Linked DNA regions of Homo sapiens. The protein of the gene in region 7 interacts with the protein of the main gene of each other region in a pairwise test. Each region holds a gene or a part of one and is shown on either strand. Other genes may lie near its edges. The genes, in order: HMOX2, HTT, RNF11, HIP1, CASP6, LAMP2 and NUDT1.

What was found.
Region 1: the proteins of NUDT1 (region 7) and HMOX2 interact in binary tests that used the Homo sapiens proteins (3 or more experiments, as listed by UniProt).
Region 2: the proteins of NUDT1 (region 7) and HTT interact in binary tests that used the Homo sapiens proteins (3 or more experiments, as listed by UniProt).
Region 3: the proteins of NUDT1 (region 7) and RNF11 interact in binary tests that used the Homo sapiens proteins (3 or more experiments, as listed by UniProt).
Region 4: the proteins of NUDT1 (region 7) and HIP1 interact in binary tests that used the Homo sapiens proteins (3 or more experiments, as listed by UniProt).
Region 5: the proteins of NUDT1 (region 7) and CASP6 interact in binary tests that used the Homo sapiens proteins (3 or more experiments, as listed by UniProt).
Region 6: the proteins of NUDT1 (region 7) and LAMP2 interact in binary tests that used the Homo sapiens proteins (3 or more experiments, as listed by UniProt).

What each region holds. Positions count from the first base shown.
Region 1 is NC_000016.10:4,482,898-4,486,397, forward strand, and holds part of HMOX2 (heme oxygenase 2), read left to right. Parts: intron 1-739; exon of another isoform or gene 740-857; intron 858-3,500.
Region 2 is NC_000004.12:3,081,181-3,084,680, forward strand, and holds part of HTT (huntingtin), read left to right. Parts: intron 1-3,500.
Region 3 is NC_000001.11:51,267,273-51,270,609, forward strand, and holds part of RNF11 (RING finger protein 11), read left to right. Parts: intron 1-2,683; coding exon 2,684-2,853; intron 2,854-3,337. UniProt on the Homo sapiens protein: Essential component of a ubiquitin-editing protein complex, comprising also TNFAIP3, ITCH and TAX1BP1, that ensures the transient nature of inflammatory signaling pathways. Promotes the association of TNFAIP3 to RIPK1 after TNF stimulation.
Region 4 is NC_000007.14:75,550,442-75,553,941, reverse strand, and holds part of HIP1 (huntingtin-interacting protein 1), read left to right. Parts: intron 1-352; coding exon 353-489; intron 490-3,500. UniProt on the Homo sapiens protein: Plays a role in clathrin-mediated endocytosis and trafficking. Involved in regulating AMPA receptor trafficking in the central nervous system in an NMDA-dependent manner. Regulates presynaptic nerve terminal activity.
Region 5 is NC_000004.12:109,688,128-109,690,786, reverse strand, and holds the end of CASP6 (caspase-6 isoform alpha precursor), read left to right. Parts: intron 1-1,218; coding exon 1,219-1,457; 3' UTR 1,458-2,159; downstream 2,160-2,659.
Region 6 is NC_000023.11:120,425,648-120,428,472, reverse strand, and holds the end of LAMP2 (lysosome-associated membrane glycoprotein 2 isoform A precursor), read left to right. Parts: 3' UTR 1-2,325; downstream 2,326-2,825. UniProt on the Homo sapiens protein: Lysosomal membrane glycoprotein which plays an important role in lysosome biogenesis, lysosomal pH regulation and autophagy.
Region 7 is NC_000007.14:2,248,436-2,251,645, forward strand, and holds the end of NUDT1 (oxidized purine nucleoside triphosphate hydrolase), read left to right. Parts: intron 1-875; exon of another isoform or gene 876-1,257; intron 1,258-1,421; coding exon 1,422-1,567; intron 1,568-2,206; coding exon of another isoform or gene 2,207-2,262; exon of another isoform or gene 2,263-2,300; intron 2,301-2,393; coding exon 2,394-2,566; 3' UTR 2,567-2,710; downstream 2,711-3,210. UniProt on the Homo sapiens protein: Oxidized purine nucleoside triphosphate hydrolase which is a prominent sanitizer of the oxidized nucleotide pool. Catalyzes the hydrolysis of 2-oxo-dATP (2-hydroxy-dATP) into 2-oxo-dAMP.

The DNA.
Region 1 (3,500 bases), on a different chromosome or scaffold from region 7:
TGCATGCCTGTAGTCCCAGCCACTAGGGAGGCTGAGGCAGGAAAATCGCTTGGACCCTGGGGGCAGATGTTGCAGTGAAATGAGATCACGCCACCGCACTCCATCCAGCCTGGGCGACAGACTGGAAGAAAAAAAAAGGATACAGATGAATAGCCAGATGGAAGAGATGTATAGGGTGAGGCATGTAGGAAGAGGCATGAAGCTTCTACGCCCTCTCTGGAACTTTCGTGTATTCAGCTATCCTGAAGCTAATGCAAACCCTGGTGTGTGTGTGTGTGTGTGTGTGTGTGTGTGTGTGTGTGTGTGTGTGTGTGTGTGTGTGTGTGTTTATGGAGGCTTCATTACAAAGGCATAATTGAATACGTTATTGGCCACTGGTGATCAACTCAACCTTTAGACCTTCTCCCGTCCCCTGAGGTTAAGGGGGTAGGGCTGAAAGTTCCCACCCTCTAATCACATGGTTGGTTCCCCAGGCAATCAGCCCCCATCTAGGAGCCCACCAAGAGTTACTTACTTACAACAAAAGATGCTCCTATTACCCAGGAAATTCCAAGGGATTTAGGAAATTACAAAAGTTTTAGGAGCTCTGTGTCAGGAACTGAGGTTAAAGACCAATATCAGAATGAAGGATTCTCCTAGTGCCCCCATCTACAAAGGTTTTAGGAGCTCTGTGCCAGGAACCTAGGGTGCAGATCAAATATATCTATAAATCTTTTTGTTTGTTTGTGTTTTGAGACAGAGTCTTGCTGCGACACCCAGGCTGGAGTGCAATGGCGCTATCTCGGCTCACTGCAACCTCCGCTTCCCGGATTCAAGCGATTCTCCTGCCTCAGCCTCCCGAGTAGGTGGGACTACAGGTGTGCGCCACTATACCTGGTTAATTTTTGTATTTTTAGTAGAGACGGGGTTTCACCATATTAACCAGGCTGGTCTTGAACTCCTGACCTCAAGTGATCTGCCCACCTCAGCCTCCTGAAGTGCTGGGATTACAGGCATGAGCCGCTGCATCCAGCCTCAAATTTATCTCTGTATCTTCTTCTAAATTACAGTATCACACCCGTGCATATGCCCAAAAATTTTTTTTTTTTTTTTTTTGAGACGGAGTCTTGCTCTGTCGCCCAGGCTGGAGTGCAGTGGTGCGATCTCGGCTCACTGCAGGCTCCGCCTCCCAGGTTCACGCCATTCTCCTGCCTCAGCCTCCCGAGTAGCTGGGACTACAGGCTCCCGCCACCATGCCCGGCTAATTTTTTGTATTTTTAGTAGAGACGGGGTTTCACCGTGTTAGCCAAGATGGTCTCAATCTCCTGACCTCATGATCCACCCACCTTGGCCTCCCAAAGTGCTGGGATTACAGGCGTGAGCCACTGCACCCGGCCTCATATGCCCAAATTTTAAAGGAGGCACCACATTCAAGTCCAAATGCCTAAAGGTAGAAGGATCAAGAAACAGTAGTATGAGGCCATTTGAGAAGTATATATAGTTATCCCTCAGTATCTGTGGAGATTAGTTCCAGGACCCCTCAAGGGTACCAAGATCCAGGATGCTCAAGTTTCTTTTCTTTTCTTTTTTTTTTTTTTTTTTGAGACGGAGTCTTGCACTGTCACCCAGGCTGGAGTGCAGTGGTACGATTTCGGCTCACTGCAATCTCCACCTCCCGGGTTCAAATGATTCTCCTGCCTCAGCCTCCCGAGTAGCTGGGATTACAGGTGTGCACCACCACGCCTGGCTGATTTTTGTATTTTTAGTAGAGGTGAGGTTTCACCATATTGGCCAGGCTGGTCTCGAACTCCTGACTTCAGGTGAGCCGCCTGCCGCGGGCTCCCAAAGTGCTGGTATTACAGGCATGAGCCACTGTGCCCAGCTTAAGTTTCTTATATAAAATGGTGTATAGAATTTGCATATAACCTATGCATATCTTCTGTATTCTTTAAATCATCTGTATTTATAATACCCAATACAGTGCTATGTAAATAGTTGTTATACTGTATCGTTTAGGTAATCATGACAAGAAAAAAAATCTGTACATGTGTAGTACATATGTAGCCATCTGTTGTTTTTTTTTTCCCTGAAGATTGATTGGTTGATTGAGACGGCATCTCACTCTGTCACCGAGGCTGGAGTGCAGTGGCGCAGTCTTGGCTCACTGCAACCTCCACCTCCTGGGTTCAAGCGATTCTCTTGCCTTAGCCTCCCGAGTAGCTGGGATTACAGGTGCCTGCCACAACCCCCGGCTAATTTTTATATTTTTAGCAGATTCCGGGTTTCACCATGTTGGCCAGGCTGATCTCGAACTCCTGACCTTAAGTGATTCACCCACCTCCACGTCCCAAAGTGCTATGATTACAGGGGTGAGCCACCATGTCAGGCCTTTTTCTGAATATTTTTAATCTGAGGTTGGTTGAATCCACTGATGCAGAGCCCATGGATATGGAGGGCTGACTGTACTGTATTGAGCTTCTAAGGTATGCAGAGTATTGGCACTGAGGGGATGTGCAAATACAACAACAAACCAAGCATAGTCTTTGTTTACTAGGAGCTGGTAGTAACTGTGGGAAGACACAAAACAGTAAAATCACTTTGTAAGGTTTATGAGAGTTTTGAGAGGCCAGGGAAGTTAAAGAGTGGAGAAATGGAGAAAATGGGAGAACTTGTACTGAACCCATTAGGACAGAGGAGGAAGGGAAGAGAAGGAAGGAGGCCAAAGAAAGAAGAAACCCTTCTTAGAGCACTCAGGGTCTTACTGAAAACTTTACCCATAAAAAGAGAATGTCACTGATAGACTCCTTTTAGAACAGGGATTGATTTTTTTGTTTTTGTTTTTGTTTTTATTTTTGTTTTTGTTTTTGAGAGAAGTCTCGCTCTTGTCCCCCAGGCTTGAGTGCAATGGCTTGATCTCGGCTCACTGCAACCTCTGCCTCCCGGGTTCAAACAATTCTCCTACCTCTGCCTCCCAGGTAGCTGGGATTAAGGCACCTGCCACCACGCCCGGCTAATTTTTGCATTTTTAGTAGAGACAAGGTTTCACCATGTTGGCCAGGCTGGTCTCGAACTCCTGACCTCAGGTGATCCACCCACCTCAGCCTCCCAAAGTGCTGGGATTACAGGCTTGAGCCACCATGCCTGGCCACAGGCAACATTTTTAAACCATACGATTGTCCTGGAGAGAGAATCTGAAGCCTTGCTCTGATTCTGAAAGGGATTTGCAACCAAAAAAGGATAAGGATTGTTCTGACAAGTACCCTTTCTTCCCATCTTCAAAAGTACACATCTCTTAATTTGTGTCTTCAAACACAAATTGTGTTCAAAAAAGGAAGTATTTGAGTAGATTAAAGACAGAAACCCTAGGACATTCCTTTGTAAACAAACAGCCTTTTACCAAACACCAACTGTCAAGGGACTTGCCTGAGTACTTGTCCAAAGGACAGCGTGTCCCCATGTGTAGGCAGTGGTCTAATCTGGTTCCTAGGAGAGGACTGCTGAGGCCACAGCAACTTAACTGG
Region 2 (3,500 bases), on a different chromosome or scaffold from region 7:
TCGCATCTTAACAATATTGTCTTCCACCTATGAACATGGGCAAACTTTGTGTAAATGGTCAGATTGTAAGTATTTCGGGCTGTGTGGGCACAGTGTCTCTGTCACAGCTACGCGGCTCTGCCATTGTAGCATGAAAGTAGCCATAAGCAATATGTATGAGTGTCTGTGTTCCAATAGAATTTTATTAATGACAAGGAAGTTTGAATTTCATATAATTTTCACCTGTCATGAGATAGTATTTGATTATTTTGGTCAACCATTTAAAAATGTAAAAACATTTCTTAGCTTGTGAACTAGCCAAAAATATGCAGGTTATAGTTTTCCCACTCCTAGGTTAAAATATGATAGGACCACATTTGGAAAGCATTTCTTTTTTTTTTTTTTTTTTTTTTTTTGAGACGGAGTTTCACTCTTGTTGCCCAGGCTGGAGTGCAGTGGCGCGATCTCGGCTCACTGCAACCTCTGCCTCCCAGGTTCAAGACATTCTCCTGCACGGCCTCCCTAGTAGCTGGGATTACAGGCATGCGCCACCACACCCAGCTAATTTTGTATTTTTAGTAGAGACGGGGTTTCTCCATGTTGGTCAGGCTGGTCTTGAACTCCTGACCTCAGGTGATCCACCCGCCTCAGCCTCCCAAAGTGCTGGGATTACAGGGTGTGAGCCACCACACCCTGCTGGAAAGCATTTCTTTTTTGGCTGTTTTTGTTTTTTTTTTAAACTAGTTTTGAAAATTATAAAAGTTACACATATACATTATAAAAATATCTTCAAGCAGCACAGATGAAAAACAAAGCCCTTCTTGCAAGTCTGTCATCTTTGTCTAACTTCCTAAGAACAAAAGTGTTTCTTGTGTCTTCTTCCCAGATTTTAATATGCATATACAAGCATTTAAATGTGTCATTTTTTGTTTGCTTGACTGAGATCACATTACATATGTATTTTTTTACTTAACAATGTGTCATAGATATTGTTCCATAGCAGTACCTGTAATTCTTATTAATTGCTATGTAATATTTTAGAATTTCTTTTTAAAAGAGGACTTTTGGAGATGTAAAGGCAAAGGTCTCACATTTTTGTGGCTGTAGAATGTGCTGGTGACATATTCTCTCTACCTTGAGAAGTCCCCATCCCCATCACCTCCATTTCCTGTAAATAAGTCAACCACTTGATAAACTACCTTTGAATGGATCCACACTCAAAACATTTAGTCTTATTCAGACAACAAGGAGGAAAAATAAAATACCTTATAAAGCACTGTTTAATATTGTATTAAATTGGATCAATTTGGGGGCTAGAATGTATGTTAGAGACATGATATGTCCATAGGTCCTTGCTATCACAGTGAGGTCTCAGGGACAGTCGTTTGGTATCATTTGGGATCTCATAAGCAGACTCTCTCTGCTTGACCTGACAAATCAGAGTCTGTGTTTTAACAGGTTCAGTGAGTGACTTACATGCACATTGGAGTTTGGGAAGCTCCACTGTAGGTGCTTAGACCTTACCTTTGTTGTTGCTAATAACAATGCAAGCATTTGGGAGGAAGACCTGTGTTGCTCATATGTGTCCAGGTGTAGCTGAGGTGGCCTTGCTTATCTGCTGTAGGGCCGTTGAGCATTTCTGTAGCTGTGATGAGTGAGCTGAGGTGAGCCTGCGGAGAGCTCCCAGCCATTGGTAGTGGGACTCGCTTAGATGAACTGGAAGGACCCTTTCATCTGAGCAGCCACTATGGAGAAAAACAACCGAATGAGGGGAGAGACAATGTGCAATTTTATTTAGGGCACAAAGGAGAGCTGTGGTTAGAAGGTGACATTTGAGTGGAAAGGGGGCAAGCCATGTGTATAGCGGGAGAAGAGAGGTCCAGGCAGAGTTAACAGAAGGCAGAAATGCTTTCCATGTTTGAGAACCAGTAAGGAGGCCAGTGGCTGAAGTAAGGTGAAGGGCAGAAATAAGGATGAGGCTGCGAGAGATGAGAGGTTAGAGACGAGCGTCTTGTGCACCAAGATAAGCTTGTGTGGTCAAAACAAGTAGTTTAATTTATGTTTTTAAAAGATCATTTTGGCTGGGCACAATGGTTCATGCCTGTAATACCAGTAGTTTGAGACGGTGTGGTGGGAGGATTGCCTGAGGCCAGACGACCAGCATAGCCAACATAGCAGCACCTATAAGGTCTCTACAAAAAACTTTAAAAAATTAGCTGGGCATAGTGGTGTGTGCCTGTAGTCCCAGCTACTCAGGAGGCTGAGGAGGCTGGAGGATTGCTTGAGTCCAGGAGTTTGAGGCTGCAGTGAGCTATGATTATGCCACTACACTACAACCTGGGCAAGAGAGTGAGACCCTGTCTCTAAATATACACACACACACACACACACACACACACACACACACACACACACACACACACACACATATATATGTATATATATGCATTTAGATGAAAAGATCACTTTGACAATACCACATGCTGGTGAGGATTTAGAAAAACTAGGTCACTTATTGCTGGTGGGAATATAATATAGTACGGCCACTCTGGAAAACAGTTTGGCAGTTTGTCATAAAACTGAACATACCGTTAGTATACAGCCCAGCAGCAACTACAATCCTGGGCATTAATCCTAGAGAAATGAAACCTTAATGTTCACATAAAAACCTATACTCAAGTATGCATAGCAGCTTTACCCATAATATCTAAGAACTGGAATCAGCTCAGATGTCCTTCAACAGGTGAATGGTTAAACTACTCAGTAATAAAAAGGAATGAGCTACTGATAGCATGCAACAGTTTAGGTGAAGTTATGCTAATGAAAAAAGCCAATCCCAAAAGGTTATACATACTGTATGATTCTATGTTTTTTTGCAATGGCACAGTTTTAGGGATGGAGAATAGATTAGTGGTTGCCTGGGGTTAGAGATGGGGTAGTAGAGTAGGTTAGTGGTGGCAGAGGAGAGAAAAGAGAGGGAGGTGAATGTGGTTATAAAAGGACAACACAGGGGAATACTTGTAATGGAAATGCTTTGTCTTTTTTTTTTTTTTTTTTTTTTTGGCGACAGAGTCTTGCTCTGTTGCCCAGGCTGGAGTGCAGTGGCATGATCTTTTCTCACTGCAACCTCTGCCTCCTGGGTTCAAGTGATACTTGTGTCTCAGTCTCCCATGTTCAGAGTGAAACAAACCAGAGGTAATGTTCATCCAAATAATCCAACACACATGACATTAAAACATCAAGATCAGGTCGGACGTGGTGGCTCATGCCTGTAATCCCAGCACTTTTGGGAGGCCAAGGTGGGCAGATCACTTGAGGTCAGGAGTTCGAGACCAGCCGGGCCAACATGATGAAACCCCATCTTGACTAAAAATACAAAAATTAGCCGGGCATGGTGGTGTGCACCTGTAGTCCCAGCTACTTGGGAGGCTGAGGCAAGAGAACTGCTTGAACCCGAGGGGCAGAGGTTGCAGTGAGCTGAGAGTGCGCCATTGCACTTCAGCCTGTGTGACAGAGTAAGA
Region 3 (3,337 bases), on a different chromosome or scaffold from region 7:
CAGCTGGGGACGAAACACAGTAGCTTTGCAAATATAAAGTGGGAGCACAACCTAGCACTGGCGTTGGAGGTCCTCAAAACAGTCCCCAGGTTTGGTGATTCAATAGGAGGGCTCTTAGGACTTAGTATATAATCTTACTCACATCTATGATTTGTTACAGCAAAGAATCAAAGCAAAATCAGCTAAGGGGAAAGGTGCTTTGGTCTAAAGGGAACTAAGCACAAGCTTCCAAGAGTTATCTCCTAGTGGAGTCACACAGGACATGCTTAATTCCTTCAACATATATGAAAGGTTTTCTGCCAGAGAAGCTCATTTGGAGACTCAGTGCCCCAGGTACTGATTAGGCACCCACTGCCTAGCATATGACAAAATTCCTGATTCTCAGAGGGGAAGCAGGTGTTGAACATAAACCATATAGTGTTCGCAGATAGGGAATGGTGGGAACCACCCCCAAATCCATATCTTTTTTTGTTGTTAAGATGGAGTCTCTCTCTGTTGCCCAGGCTAGAGTACAGTGGCAAGATCTTGGCTCACTGCAACCTCTGCCTCCCGGGTTAAAGCAGTTCTCTTGCCTCAGCTTACTGAGTAGCTGGGATTACAGGCGTGCACCACCACGCCCAGCTAATTTTAGTATTTTTAGTAGAGATGGTGTTTTACCATGTTGGCCAGGCTGGTCTCGAACTCCTGACCTCAGGTGATACGCCTGCCTCGGCCTTTCAAAGTTCTGGGATTACACGCATGAGCTACCATGCCCAGCCATCACATCTTTTAAAATTGTTGTTTTTATACCCCTGTCTAATCTTCTACTCACTCAGTGTCTGTTAGCCAACAATTGAATCAGGATTCCATTTTGCTGCCTAGAAAATCAGTGGCTGTCTAGTTATGAAACAATTGATAACTCAGATATCAAGCCATTTTAAAACAAGTATCATGGGAATTAAAATTTAAAATTAGGCATGTGTGGTAAGAAGGGTGAGGCCACATTCATCTTTAAAATATCAGGAGGTCTTAGTCATTTCCTTTCCTCTATGGTTTTCTGAACCATGTAAACTGAAATTAGATTGTTCAATCATTTTAAATATCTAAAAGATATAGAGAGGGTTCCTTTGTTTTAACAAAAAAATACCAAAGGAGAAAATACACTCATAACGTGAATTAAAATATAGTTTTTATTTTCTTCTTTAATGTTTATTAATGTTTCCCCGTAAAGTAGAACTTTCCTTTTCTGTTCTGCTTTCTGTGTTCTCTACACGTATGTGAACCACAAGACTGAAGAAATCTAGCCTCTGAAAAACCCATAGTTGGAGTTTATTTTCTCTAAAACAATTTAGTTATTTTTGTTTGTTAGGTTCAAGGATTTAAGAGACCCTTTATATTATCTTAGTCTTAAACCAATTTGTTCCCAGTTTGCGTGTGGATGACAGCTCATCAAAACTGGTCAACTAGGACTGAGGCTAAGATTCAGGAAGGTAATTTAGACTGGAAATGGTAATTCAAGGGTTGAAGAACTCAGAGCTGGCAGAGATCACAACAGAGTCCAAGAGTTTGTAGTATTCAAAGAGAAGCCAGAAAGCCAGGACCAAAGCCAAGGACAGTAGCACTTAGCTTAAAGTCTGCAAAGCAGAGAATCATGATGGGGAGAATCATGACGTTGGGGAGATGTTAGAATAATTTACAAATATTGGCATTTACAAAGCTCTTAGTTATCTCATGATTATATCAACTCTTTAAAGTGGGTACTGTTATCTGCTTTATTCAAAGACATTAAGAGACTTGGTCCAAGCAATCACAGTAAGTAGCCGAGCTGAGACTGAAATCTTATAATTTAATTCTTCAGACTGAAAATCTCATCTTCTGAGATAGTAGTGTTTTTCAGACTGCTCTGTTGATTCTGAGGATTCTGCAAAGGTAACCAAGGTGAGGGCTTGGGGATGGGGAGCCTCATCCCTTCTAGGCCACACTCCATCCCAGCTTCATTCCATCAGAGTTGCTCAGTTTTAAATATTATTATAGGCCAGGCACCATGGCTCAACCCTGTGGCCCCACTACTCAGGAGGCTGAGGTTGGAGGATTGCTTGAGCCCAGGGGGTTGAGTTTACAGTAAGTTGTGTTTGTGCCACTGCACTTAAGCCTGGGCAACAGAGGGAGACCCTATCTCAAAAAAAGGTGGGGGTTATACACACGATTCCTTTGAATTGTTTTGTTGTGTAAAAAATCAGTTGGATTAGGAGCAGCAGAATTCTAATTTCAGTATTGTCAATTAGTGACTGTAGGCAAGCTTGGTCCTATGAAATGGGAAAGTTAGTCTTAGATAACTTTTAGATTTATTTTTGCCATAGTCCAGTCCATTTAAAAAGTTTTAAAAATTATTTTTAGAGATGAGGTCTTGCTATGTTGTCCAGGCTGGTCTCTTATCATGTGGAAATAGTTCATTTAACATTCCATGCCAGTTCAGTGAAGTCTGTGTTTATATCCTTTAGGCAGAATGAGAATGTTTTGGTGTGTGTATGTTTTATTCTAGTAGCTGAAGTTAAGGCAGGGTGAAACACAGTCATACAGCCAAACACTAGCCCAGCTTCCTACCCCTCCCAGGGCTCCCTTTCCCTTCTATCTCTGACCAAAAAATAAGCCCTCGAAAGGTTTTTAAAAAATAATCTTTTTCCTCTATATTTTAATATTTTAGGAACAAGTTCCAGTTCCAGTCTACCACCCAACACCTAGCCAGACTCGGCTAGCAACTCAGCTGACTGAAGAGGAACAAATTAGGATAGCTCAAAGAATAGGTCTTATACAACATCTGCCTAAAGGAGTTTATGACCCTGGAAGAGATGGATCAGAAAAAAAGATCCGGGAGTAAGTTTTAATTAATTTGTACATTTCAAAGTTTTATTTTCAGATTGCTTTTGAAAAATTTGCCTTTTCTCCTGCACTTTAGAAAGTCAGACATTTAATATATTGAAACACTTCGCTTAATGCAAGAGAATGTTTAATTTTTTTTCATAGCTCTATTACTGGCTACTAGCAAGAGAATGTTATGTAGTAATTAAGAATTTTCACAGGCCGAGCACAGTGGCTTATGCCTGTAATCCCAGCACTTTGGGAGGCTGAGGTCGGGGGATCACTTGAGGCCAGGAGTTCGAGACCAACCTGGCCAACATGGTGAAACCTCATCTCTACTGAAAATACGAAAATTAGCCAGGCATGGTGGCACGCGCCTGTAATCCCAACCACTTGGGAGGCTGAGGTGGGAGAATCACTTGAAACTCTGTCTCAAAAAGTAAAATAAAGTAAAATAAGAGAAAGTTAGTGTTAATGAAGAGAGCTTTAACTTACAGCA
Region 4 (3,500 bases), about 73 Mb from region 7:
AAAACCCCATCTCTACTAAAGATACAAAAACGATGGGCCAGATGCAATGGTTCACGCCTGTAATCGCCGTAACACTTTGGGAGGACGAGGTGGGCAGATCACCTGAGGTCAGGAGTTCGAGACCAGCCTGGCCAACATGGCGAAACCCCGTCTCTACTAAAAATACAAAAATTAGCCGGGCATGGTGGCGCACCCGTAATCCCAGCTACTTGGGAGGCCGAGGCAGGAGAATCGCTTGAACTCAGGAGGCGGAGTTTGCAGTGAGCCGAGATGGCGCCACTGCACTCCAGCCTGGGCAACAAGAGCGAGACTCCATCTCAAAAAAAAAGTGTCTATTGCCTTGTATCTCCAGCACTGACCGAGGCCTGTAAGCAGTATGGCAGGGAAACCCTCGCCTACCTGGCCTCCCTGGAGGAAGAGGGAAGCCTTGAGAATGCCGACAGCACAGCCATGAGGAACTGCCTGAGCAAGATCAAGGCCATCGGCGAGGTACTTGGAGTAGTATCATTGAGGAGCATTGTTATTCTTCTGGGTGTGCGTGCTGGTGAATGGCCAGGGAATCGGTGATGTTCTGAGCTAGTTCTTTCTGCACTTAGAACTTGATTCTAGAAAGAGATTGTTAAAATTGGAAAATCTGGCCGGGTGCAGTGATTTATGCGTGTAATCCCAGCACTTTGGGAGGCCGAGTCAGGAGGATCACTTGAGGCTAGACGGGATGGCTCACGCCTGTAATCCCAGCACTTTGGGAGGCTGAGGTGGGCAGATCACTTGAGGTCAAGAGCTAGAGACCAGCCTGGCCAACAGGGTGAAACCCTGTCTCTACTAAAAATACAAAAATCAACCCAGCATAGTGGTGCATGCCTATAATCCCAGGTACTGGGAGGTGGAGTCAAGAGAATTGCTTGAACCCAGGAGGTGGAGGTTGCAGTGCACCGAGATCATGCCATTGCACTCCAGCCTGGGCATAAGAGTGAGATCTATCTCGAAAAAAAAAAGGATCACTTGATCCCAGAAGTTTGAGACAGGCCTAGGCAACAAAATGAGACCCTGTCTCTTTAAAAATTAAAAAAAAAAAAATTTAAAAAGGAAAAACCTCCTGAAGGACTTTCCAGCTATATTTAATTCACTGGCTGTTAGCTGAGAATCTACTATGTTGTCATCATTACACTAGGCAATATCAAAGAAGTATAGGCAGCTCCCCTGTCTCTGAGGATTTTTATCTAGGTGGGCAGGTAATACCCAAAATGGAAATAACACTGTGTTCATTCATTTACTAAAGATGTAGTGCCGAGCATGGTGGCTCACACCTGTAATCCCTGCACTTTGGGAGGCCGAGGCAGGAGGATCACTTGAGGCCAGGAGTTCAATATCAGCCTAGGCAACATAGTGAGACCCTGTCTCTACAAAATAAAATTTTTTTTTTAATTAGACAGGTGTGATGTCACGCACCTGTAGTCCCAGCTACTCGGGAGGCTGAGGCAGGAGGATCGCTTGAGCCCAGGATTTGGAGGCCACAGTGAGCTATGATTGTGCCACTGCACTCCAGCCTAGGCAACAGAGTGAGACCCTGCCTCTGCTATAAATAAATATGTCCTGTATACCAGAAATTGGGTTAAGTATATATAGGGACAGAGAAGACATGGACTCTATGGAAAAGAAAAATAAGAAAACCATTTCTATGCAGTACAGTTTTTTTTCATTTTTTCCCCAGTGTTATGAATTGGAATATATTGGTTAAGATACAAGGATAGGGCCAGGCACGGTGGCTCACGCCTGTAATCCCAACATTTTGGGAGGCCGAGGCAGGTGGATCACCTGAGGTCAGGAGTTCTAGACCAGCCTGGCCAACATGGCAAAACCCCATCTCTACTAAAAGTACAAAAAATTAGCCAGGCGTGATGGTAGGCGCCTGTAATCCCAGCTACTTAGGAGGCTGAGGCAGGAGAATCACTTGAACCTGGGAGGCTGAGGTTGCAGTGAGCTAAGATCGTGCCTTTGCACTCCAACCTGGGCAACAGGAGCGAAACTCCACTCAAAAAATAAATAAAAAATAAAAGCCATGAGGATAGACTGTCTAATTGGAGTTCCAGAAGAAGATAATAAAAAGACCACATCCAGCCAAGGTGGGTGGATCAATTGAGGCCAGGAATTTGAGACCAGCCTGGGCAACTTAGTGGCGCCCTGTCTCTACAACAAATTTAAAAATTGGCCGGGTGTGATGGTGAGCACTTTTGGTCCCAGCTACTCAGGAGGCTGAGGCAGGAGGATCACCTAAGCCTGGGAGCTCAAGACTGCAGTGAACCGTGTACTCTGCAGTGAATTGCAGAGTGTACTCTGCAGAGTGGTTCACCTGCAGTGAACCACTGTACTCCAGCCTGGGTGAGAGAGTAAGACCCTGTCTCTAAAAAGAAAAAATAAAAAGATCAGGGCCAGGTGTGGTGGCTCACGCCTGTAATCCCAGCACTTTGGGAGGCTGAGGTGGGTGGATCACTTGAGGCCAGGAGTTTGAGACCAGCCTGGCCAATATAGTGAAACTCCATCTCTATTAAAAATACAAAATTAGCCAGTTGTGGTGGCTAATTTTGTAATCCCAGCACATACCTGTAATCCCAGCTACTTGAGAGGCTGAGGCAGGATAATCCTTTGAGCCTGGGAGGCGGAGGCTGCAGTGAGCCGAGATTGCACCACTGCACTCCAGCCTGGGCGACAGAGTGAGACACTGCCTCAAAAAAAAAAAAAAAAAAAAAAAAAATTATCATCTACATCTTTGCCTCCCTAAATAATAGAGTTAGTTTCACATGATATAGACTACAGGTAAATGGAGTCCTACTGTATATATTCTTCTACAACTGGCTTTTTCACTCCACATTCTGTGAGATTAATCCAAGAAGATAAATTCATTTTCACTGCTCTCTCATTATCTATTGTGTGAATATCGCTTAATTCATCCGTCTGTTCTCTTGGTGATGGACACTTGGGTTATTTCCAGTTTGGGTTGTTATTAATTTGCCCCTATGATCATATATGCACACATGTCAGTTTCTCTAGAGTATATACATAGAATCAGAATTACTAGGTATTAGGATGAATCTCACACATAGAATGTTGAGTGAAAAATCAAGTCATGGAAAAATATATACAGTAGGATTCCTTTTATATAAAGACTCAAACATTCAAACTTAATAGGGATGCATCTATGTGGAATTAAAAAATAATAATAATAAGACAGGCCAGGCATAGTGGCACATGTCTGAAAATCCCAGCACTTTGGGAGGCCGAAGCGGGAGGATCACTTGAGGCCAGGAGTTTGATACAGCCTGGGCTACAAAGCAAGACTCTGACTCTACAAAAAAGTTTAAAAGTTAGCAGAGCCTAGTGGTGTGTGCCCGTTGTCCCAGCTACTCAGGAGGCTGAGGCAGGGAGGATCACTTGAGCCCAGGAGTGGGAGGCTGCAGTGAGCTATGATCGCACCACTGCACTCTAGCCTGGGCAACAGGCTT
Region 5 (2,659 bases), on a different chromosome or scaffold from region 7:
TTTGATTGGTTTGGGTCAGATCTTTCGGTTGGGACATGGTGATTCCATCCTGAAGCTCACAGACTTAGAATTTCTTTGACCACATGGCACAGAGTGATAAATGAAAGTGTAAAGTACCTTACAGAAAAATAATTCCTGAGAGTTATGTTGAGTAAAGCAACAGTCTAATTAATTATATTAGTATTAGCAGCCTACCATCAGTTACTGAGGGTGGTAGTGCCATTGTGGTAATTGTCATGGAAAGCTTTAATTTTTTTTTTTTTTGAGACAAGGTCTCAACTCTGTCACTGAGGCTGAAGTGCAATGGCATGATCATGGCTCACTGCAGCCTCAATTTCTCAGGCTCAAGCAATCCTCCCACCTCAGCCCCCCTGTAGCTGGGACTATAGGCATGCACCACCATGCTTGGCTAACTTTTTAATTTTTCGGTAGAGATTGGGTCTTGCTATGTTGCCCAGGCTGGTCTCAAACAATCCTCCAGCCTTGGCCTCCCAAAGTGCTGGGAGTACAGGTATGAGCCATTGCGTGCGTGCGTGCGTTTTTTTTTTTTATAGTCTCACTCTGTTGCCCAGACGTGTGTGTGTGTGTGTATTTTTTTTTTTTTTTAATAGTCTCACTCTGTTGCCCAGGCGGGAGTGCAGTGGTCCAATGTCAGCTCACTGCAACCTCTGCCTCCTGGGTTCAAGTGATTCTCCTACCTCAGCCTCCCGAGTAGCTGGGAATACAGGTGCCTGCCACCACGCCAAGCTAATTTTTGTAGTTTTAGTAGAGATGGGGTTTCACCATGTTGGCCAGGCTGGTCTCGAACTCCTGACCTCAAGTGATCTGCCTGCCTCAGCCTCCCAAAGTGCTGGGATTATAGGCATGAGCCACCATGCCCAACTGAAAAATATTTTGATAATGGTTCTTTGCTTTTGTAGTAAATAATTTTGACTTCTTTTTAGTAATCTCATGTCTCAATCATTGTCTATCTTGGGAATTTTTTAGGAAATGGAAGAAATTATACAGAATTAACCCCGTGTATATAAAACTATATAGAATTAATCTCTTTTCCCATTTGAAAAGAGTCAAAAAAATTTAAAAGCCATTTATATCATGGACACATCTTAAGACTCTTCTAAGGATTTTTAAGAACTTATACTTCTGTAACTAAAAAGAATACACACAGTAATTGAAAGCCAGAAAACTGCAGCAACATTTTCCTTCTCACTTTTTTAGGATATTATTCTCACCGGGAAACTGTGAACGGCTCATGGTACATTCAAGATTTGTGTGAGATGTTGGGAAAATATGGCTCCTCCTTAGAGTTCACAGAACTCCTCACACTGGTGAACAGGAAAGTTTCTCAGCGCCGAGTGGACTTTTGCAAAGACCCAAGTGCAATTGGAAAGAAGCAGGTTCCCTGTTTTGCCTCAATGCTAACTAAAAAGCTGCATTTCTTTCCAAAATCTAATTAATTAATAGAGGCTATCTAATTTTACACTCTGTATTGAAAATGGCTTTCTCAGCCAGGCGTGGTTACTCACACCTGTAATCCCAGCACTTTGGGAGTCCAAGGTGGGCGGATCACCTGAGGTCGGGAGTTCGAGACCAGCCTGACCAACATGGAGAAGCCCCGTCTCTACTAAAAATGCAAAAAAAAATTTAGCTAGGCATGGCGGCGCATGCCTGCAATCCCAGCTACTTGGAAGGCTGAGGCAGGAGAATCACTTGAACCCAGGAGGTGGAGGCTGCGGTGAGCCGAGATTGCGCCATTGCACTCCAGCCTGGGCAACGAGTGAAACTCCGTCTCAAAAAAAAGAAAATGTCTTTCTCTTCCTTTTATATAAATATCGTTAGGGTGAAGCATTATGGTCTAATGATTCAAATGTTTTAAAGTTTAATGCCTAGCAGAGAACTGCCTTAAAAAAAAAAAAAAAAAGTTCATGTTGGCCATGGTGAAAGGGTTTGATATGGAGAAACAAAATCCTCAGGAAATTAGATAAATAAAAATTTATAAGCATTTGTATTATTTTTTAATAAACTGCAGGGTTACACAAAAATCTAGCTGATTTAACTTGTATTTTGTCACTTTTTTATAAAAGTTTATTGTTTGATGTTTTTAAAGGTTTTTGAAATCCAGGAATTAAATCATCCCTTAATAAAATATTCGAAATTCATATTTTATTACATTTTTCTAACTCACATTCTTGTTCATTTGTGTAATTGATAGATGTTTTTTACTCGGTCATTTAAATGTTTAATATTTCATCTACATATGAATTACCACATTTTGTGTATGACTTTAATTCCTACTTTAAAAAAAATCAGCATTCCAGAATTGTTGTATGGCATTCTGAGGATGAAATAGAAAACATAATTCTTAGCCACTATAGGTTGAACACCTGCAAAATCTGATTCTGTCAGCATCTTCCATGTTAAGTTCCTACAAACAGTCCAACAGTCATCAGACCCATTCACACACAATCACATTAATAGAATAACAGATGTTACTTTCAAGGTTCAATTCTTATTAATATGATATAGAATCTGAATAATACTGTTTTGTTAATAATCTGCCAGAGGCTGAAGAAAGTTAACTGTTTTGGCTTCGATACCTGAAACTTGTGATTTGCAGGTTCAAAAGCAATCGTTTATATACACTGTTTCAGTTGAAGTT
Region 6 (2,825 bases), on a different chromosome or scaffold from region 7:
TAGTGTTTGTTTGTTTTTTTCAATTAGAAGTTACGTTTCCATTGGCTAAAAGCCAGGACATGCTGTGCAATAGATTGTTTAAGATATGCAGACTAACTTCAGTGAGTTCCTAGCTAACTTGGGCATGAGTACACTTATTTAAGACAAAATATATTAGGACCAATTTTTTTCTGTTTTTTTTCTTCCTTTGTTAAAGTATAATTAAAAGAAAAATTGTGGCTTAGAATTTTTTAAGTAAATAATGATTTTAAGCCCCTGGATCCAATTATGAAAGCATTTTTGCTGATGTGTAATTTTATATGTTACAGTTACTTATATTTTACTACTTTGATGTTATTTGCAAAATCAAAGGTGTTAAAGAATTTAACTTGCTTCAGGAAATAAATTCAAGAACATAGTGGATTCATTTTCATTGGTGGCAGACACGAAATTTGGTTCATGATAAGACTTCCTTTCCCCACCTCCTGATCAGCATTATTTAAATCTGTATTTTTCTGTTAGTTAAGAAAGAAATGGCTTCATGATATTGTATTTAATAGCAAAAGTTTGGCTGTCTTCTTCATTACTGTTAATAGCTACTATATTTTAACAAGGAGATTTCTTTTTTTGTTGTTGTTGTTCTAGAGTTTGGAATATACTGATTATCTCAGACTTGACATTTATACTGAAGGATGAAGTAAGACCTCCAGCTTTTTTTAAAAAAGGTGTTGATTTGGAACACCTGTATGGGTTATGGTTTATTAAGGTTATGGTTTAGAAAGTTTTTTTCCCTCAGAGCCTTAACTTGTTAAGAAGGTTCATTTATCCTGCACTGAAAACAAAAACTCTATATACTTTGTTTGTGTGCCTCCTGCACTCTCCCATTCCCTATGTGAATATGCTCTAGTTGATATTTTTAATATATTGATTTCTTTTTTCTCACAGCAACAAGTGCTTACTCTAGAGGTTAGTGGGCCCTGATATGTCATCAGTCAGATGCCTGCCTAGCCAAAGCTGGACTAAGATTATTCTGTACATTTGTTGATCTTGATATAGACTTATATCCCTGTAGGGACTGCTAATGGCTCCGGCTTCTGGAGTAAGGTACTGGAGACCACTCATCCCTGTGTCTGCTTGATTGGTTCAGCTGTTGAATTGCCCTTTTATTTGGAAGCAGTGTTGAAGTTGTCTAGGGTTCAAATGGCTGCTTTGTACACCTGTCATTAGTATAAGGCAGATGTTTATTTTATCAAGCTATTTTATCTCTACATTTAACTAAAAACAAAAGTTCCCAAAGATCTGCCTTCACTTCAGAAATTTTTTTTGGATTAAAAAAATTAAGCCTGAACCTTAAATAAAGTGAGTTGGTTATTCATTCCAAGGATTAAGTCCCAATCTACCTCTCAGCACAATGCAGAAGCTCACCACTGTATTGCTGCCATTAACTCATGCCAGAACCCTTTGCCAATAACTGGAATTACAAATTTTTGTTAAAGAAAATTTATCAAGATCTTTCTTTACTGCCTTCTCTATATGTACATCTCAAAAACATGTACATCTCAAAAACTGGAGTAGAAAGTTAGATTGCTCAACTACAACTCCTCTAGAACTCTATAGCTCTGACATACAGATTCACACTCTCCTCTATTTGCTAAGTATGTAAAGAATGTTTTCTTTTAAAATGTTCTCTTTTGAGAACAACTGCTTATTTGTTATAAAAGCATTTGGTTAAAATGATGTCATCATAAAAAACAGTGGCTTTGTTTCAATACATATTTTTGAGATGATTATCTAGAAGCCAGATTAATAAAATCAGCTTGTGACCTTGCTAAGCATATAAACTGGAAATTCAGATACATTCAAAATTATGGGTTCATTTAAAAGTGTTCTACCTTTTGGGTATGAGACTAATATCACTAATTCCTCAATAGTTATCATGGCTCTATCTTAATTAATTAGAAAATATGTGTGTTTAATTCTTTGAGAATTAAAATAGAGAATATTAACAGAGGGTTAAAAACTGCTTCAACTCCAATAAGATAAAGGAAGCTCAAAATCTATGAGCTGAGTGTTCAATTAGCTTTGCCTACTGAGTTCAATTTTATGTCAATACAACAGTGGATCAGACAGTACGACTTTGAACTGGTGAATGTAAACAATTGTTTTTCACCTAAGCTGCTTTGGAAGAACTGATGCTTGCTGCTAACTAAAGTTTTGGATGTATCGATTTAGAGAACCAATTAATACCTGCAAAATAAAGCATACTGTGGTACTTCTGTTTGATCTAGTATGTGTGATTTTAGATTGATGGATTAAAAATTAATAAAGATCATACATTCCATACCACTATGGATAACCTCATTTTTATTCCATATGCTCAGCCTTAAGAGCTTAGACTTAATTGTATAATCTAAGTTTCTTGAATTCTAGTCTCTTGGATTGTCAACAGGAATCATAGGATCTCATAGATCTGCAACTTAACCAAGTCCCGTCATTAGGAAGGCACTAGTACAGAACCTTTAGTACAGACACCTCAAATAGGGGGACCTACTTAGTCATGGAAATTACAAGAAAACATCAAAAACAAAATATGGAAATCTAACAAATGTAAGAACATCATAACAAACGTACTTTCCGCGTATGTCTGTCTGCATTGATGAACTATACTAATTGTTGAAGTTCATTTCATTCTGAGTGAGATATACCTCAGGGATATGGTGGGGCAAGGGGAGGAGCTATCCATTTTGTGAATTTCCTTTAAATTCCTTACAATCTAGTCTAATGCTTAATTTTTATATAATTGGATAAAACAACAACACATACATAAACATACTCCTTTTTACATG
Region 7 (3,210 bases):
CCATACCAAACAGGAGTTGAGAAGGCGGCTGGGTTCCTTGAGGTGTGGAATGTCATGCACTCCTCCTTTCTTGCGTGGAAAGCCCGAGGTATAAAGTGTGTATGATGTTTGCTTTTTTTTTTTTTTTTTTTTTTAAGACAGGGTCTAGCTCGGTTGCCCAGGCTGGAGTGCAGTGGAGTAATCCCAGCTCACTGCAGCCTCCAACTCCTGGGCTCAAGCATTCCTCCCATCTCAGTCTCCTGAGGAGCTGGGACTACAGGCGAGTGCCACCATGCCCAGCTAATTTCTGTCCTTTTTGTAGAAACAGGGTTTTGCCATATTGCCCAAGCTGGTCTCAAACTCCGGAGCTCAAGCAATCAATCCTCCCACCTTGGCCTCCAAAAATGCTGGGATTACAGGCATGAGCCACCCTGCACCCAACCTGTTTGCATTTTTATTTTTTAACTTTAAGCTATTAAGGGTTAATGTTTGCATTTCTTAAGGGAAAAACAGAGGAGAAAGAGCCAAAGGAAAAACACTGAAATGGTAGCATTCCTGGGTGATGAGTTTATGGCGTTTTGTTTCCTGGTTGTCTATAACAAATATGTAATTTTTAAATTAGCAACAGCGTTAGACTACTTCGGGGAAACCTGGCTCTGTGTGCCACGAAGCAGGGAAGGGCTTGTTCCCAGGCGCAGCAGCACTTGGGCATCCCGTGGTGAAGTCAGCCCCTTACACCTCCTCCAGGCACAGCTGTGGGGAGCATGTCCCGAGAAGGCGCAGGAAGAGGCCCAGGCCACGTGTCCCGTGTGGTCAGCCTGGGGACCAGAGTTAAAACCAGAGCTCCTCCTTCAGGAAACAGATCATAGAAGCCTGTGGTTTCATCCTGTGTTCTCAGAGAAGAGGCACCAGGCTGGAAAGACATTTCTTTGGGCAGACAGGCCCAGAGTATAGGGCCCAGGTTCCCAGAGCAAGCGTCCCAGGGCCCCGGCGGTCGTAACTACCGCTGCATGGGCTCTGATGCTCAGCCGCGGAAAAGCAAGTAACCGGGAATGAAGGAAGTGGGGTCAGTCCCAACCCTGCCACGTGCGGGTCTCGAGACGGTGGACAAGTGGCTGGACTCCACTGGGCCTGGGCTGTCACTGGTACACAGAGGGCACTGGGCTAGAACTGCGTTCCTCCCACCAGAGGCTCCACACCATCTCCGGGCCCCTCCCCAGAGCCTCTCAACCAAAATCAGTGTCTTCAAAGTTCAAGTTGATTCTGAAGCTCAGCCAGGTCGGGACCAGATAATGCATTCTAGGGGACATCCTCCTGGGTCTCCCATCCACCCTGGTGGCTCCCTGGGCTGTGTGTAGATGCCCAGCTCCTCCTCCCTGCCATCGTGTGGGCATGGCACCATGCCCTGACGGCCTCCCTCCCCTGCCCACCTCTGCCCGCAGGGAGCTGCAGGAGGAGAGCGGTCTGACAGTGGACGCCCTGCACAAGGTGGGCCAGATCGTGTTTGAGTTCGTGGGCGAGCCTGAGCTCATGGACGTGCATGTCTTCTGCACAGACAGCATCCAGGGGACCCCCGTGGAGAGCGACGGTGAGTCTCACAGGGCCTGCTCCCCCTCCCCACTATGCGGGTCCCATCTCCTGGCTGGGAGAAAGGCCATCCGCCCAAACCATCTCTGAGTGCCAGGGACCGGGCAGCCTGCGTCCCCCTCCACCCCACAGTGCCAGCGTGGGGCCCATGAGCCGTGGTCTCTGCACCGAGGCTCCAGTAGCGTACCTGCCCCTGCTCTGCGCCCACCCTAAAATGAGAAACACGGTAATGAGGATGAAATATAAACGATCGTCAGGTTCCTCACGATCACTCAGTGAACTCCTCAGAGAGTCAGTGTACGTTTGGGCTGGCCAGACGCAGTGGCTCACCCCTGTAATCCCAGCACTGTGGACTGTGGGAGGCCGAGGCAGGAGGATCGTTGAGCCCAGGAGTTCAAGACCAGTCTGGGCAACACAGTGAGACCCCATCTCTACAAAAAAACATGGTTTTGTTGTTGTTGCTGTTGTTGTTTTGAGACGAAGTCTCGCTCTGTCGCCCAGGCTGGAGGGCAATGGCGCAATCTCGGCTCACTGCAAGCTCCACCTCCCAGGTTCACACCATTCTCCTGCCTCAGCCTCCCAAGTAGCTGGGACTACAGGCGCCCGCCACCACGCCCGGCTAATTTTTTTGTATTTTTAGTAGAGACGGGGTTTCACCGTGTTAGCCAGGATGGTCTCGATCTCCTGACCTCGTGATCCTCCCGCCTCGGCCTCCCAAAGTGCTGGGATTACAGGCGTGAGCCACCGCGCCCGGCCAAAAAAAACATGTTTTTTAAGCATGAAGTTTGGGTTGCACCTCAGTGCCTCCTCTTCCCCCATTGGTACAGAAATGCGCCCATGCTGGTTCCAGCTGGATCAGATCCCCTTCAAGGACATGTGGCCCGACGACAGCTACTGGTTTCCACTCCTGCTTCAGAAGAAGAAATTCCACGGGTACTTCAAGTTCCAGGGTCAGGACACCATCCTGGACTACACACTCCGCGAGGTGGACACGGTCTAGCGGGAGCCCAGGGCAGCCCCTGGGCAGGAGACGTGGCTGCTGAACAGCCGCAAACCATCTTCACCTGGGGGCATTGAGTGGCGCAGAGCCGGGTTTCATCTGGAATTAACTGGATGGAAGGGAAAATAAAGCTATCTAGCGGTGGTTTTTTTTTTTTTTTTTTGGAGATGGAGTCTCTCTCTGTTGCCCAGGCTGGAGTGCAATGGCACGATCTCGGCTCACGTCAACCTCCGCCTCCCAGGTTCAAGCGATCCTCCCATCTCAGCCTCCCGAAGAGGTGGGATTACAGGCGCACATTGCCACACCCAACTAATATTTGTCTGTTTAGTAGAGATGGGGTTTCACCATGTTGACCAGGCTGGTCTTGAACTCCTGACCTCAGGTGATCCACCTGCCTCAGCCTCCCAAAGTGCTGGGATTCCAGGCGTGAGCCACTGCACCCGGCCGGTCTCTAACCTTTCAAACGTTCTTCTCCAGACACCAGCACAGCCTGCCAGGTCCCGTCCACAGGAAGCTACCAGATGTGCTGGGCTTCAGCCCGCACTGCTGCACAGAGGTGGGAGAGGATGGAGACTCTGTCCCCGAGGTGGGCAGCTGGCCCAGGGCAGAGACACACATGCTCAGTGCCACAAGCTGGGGATGTG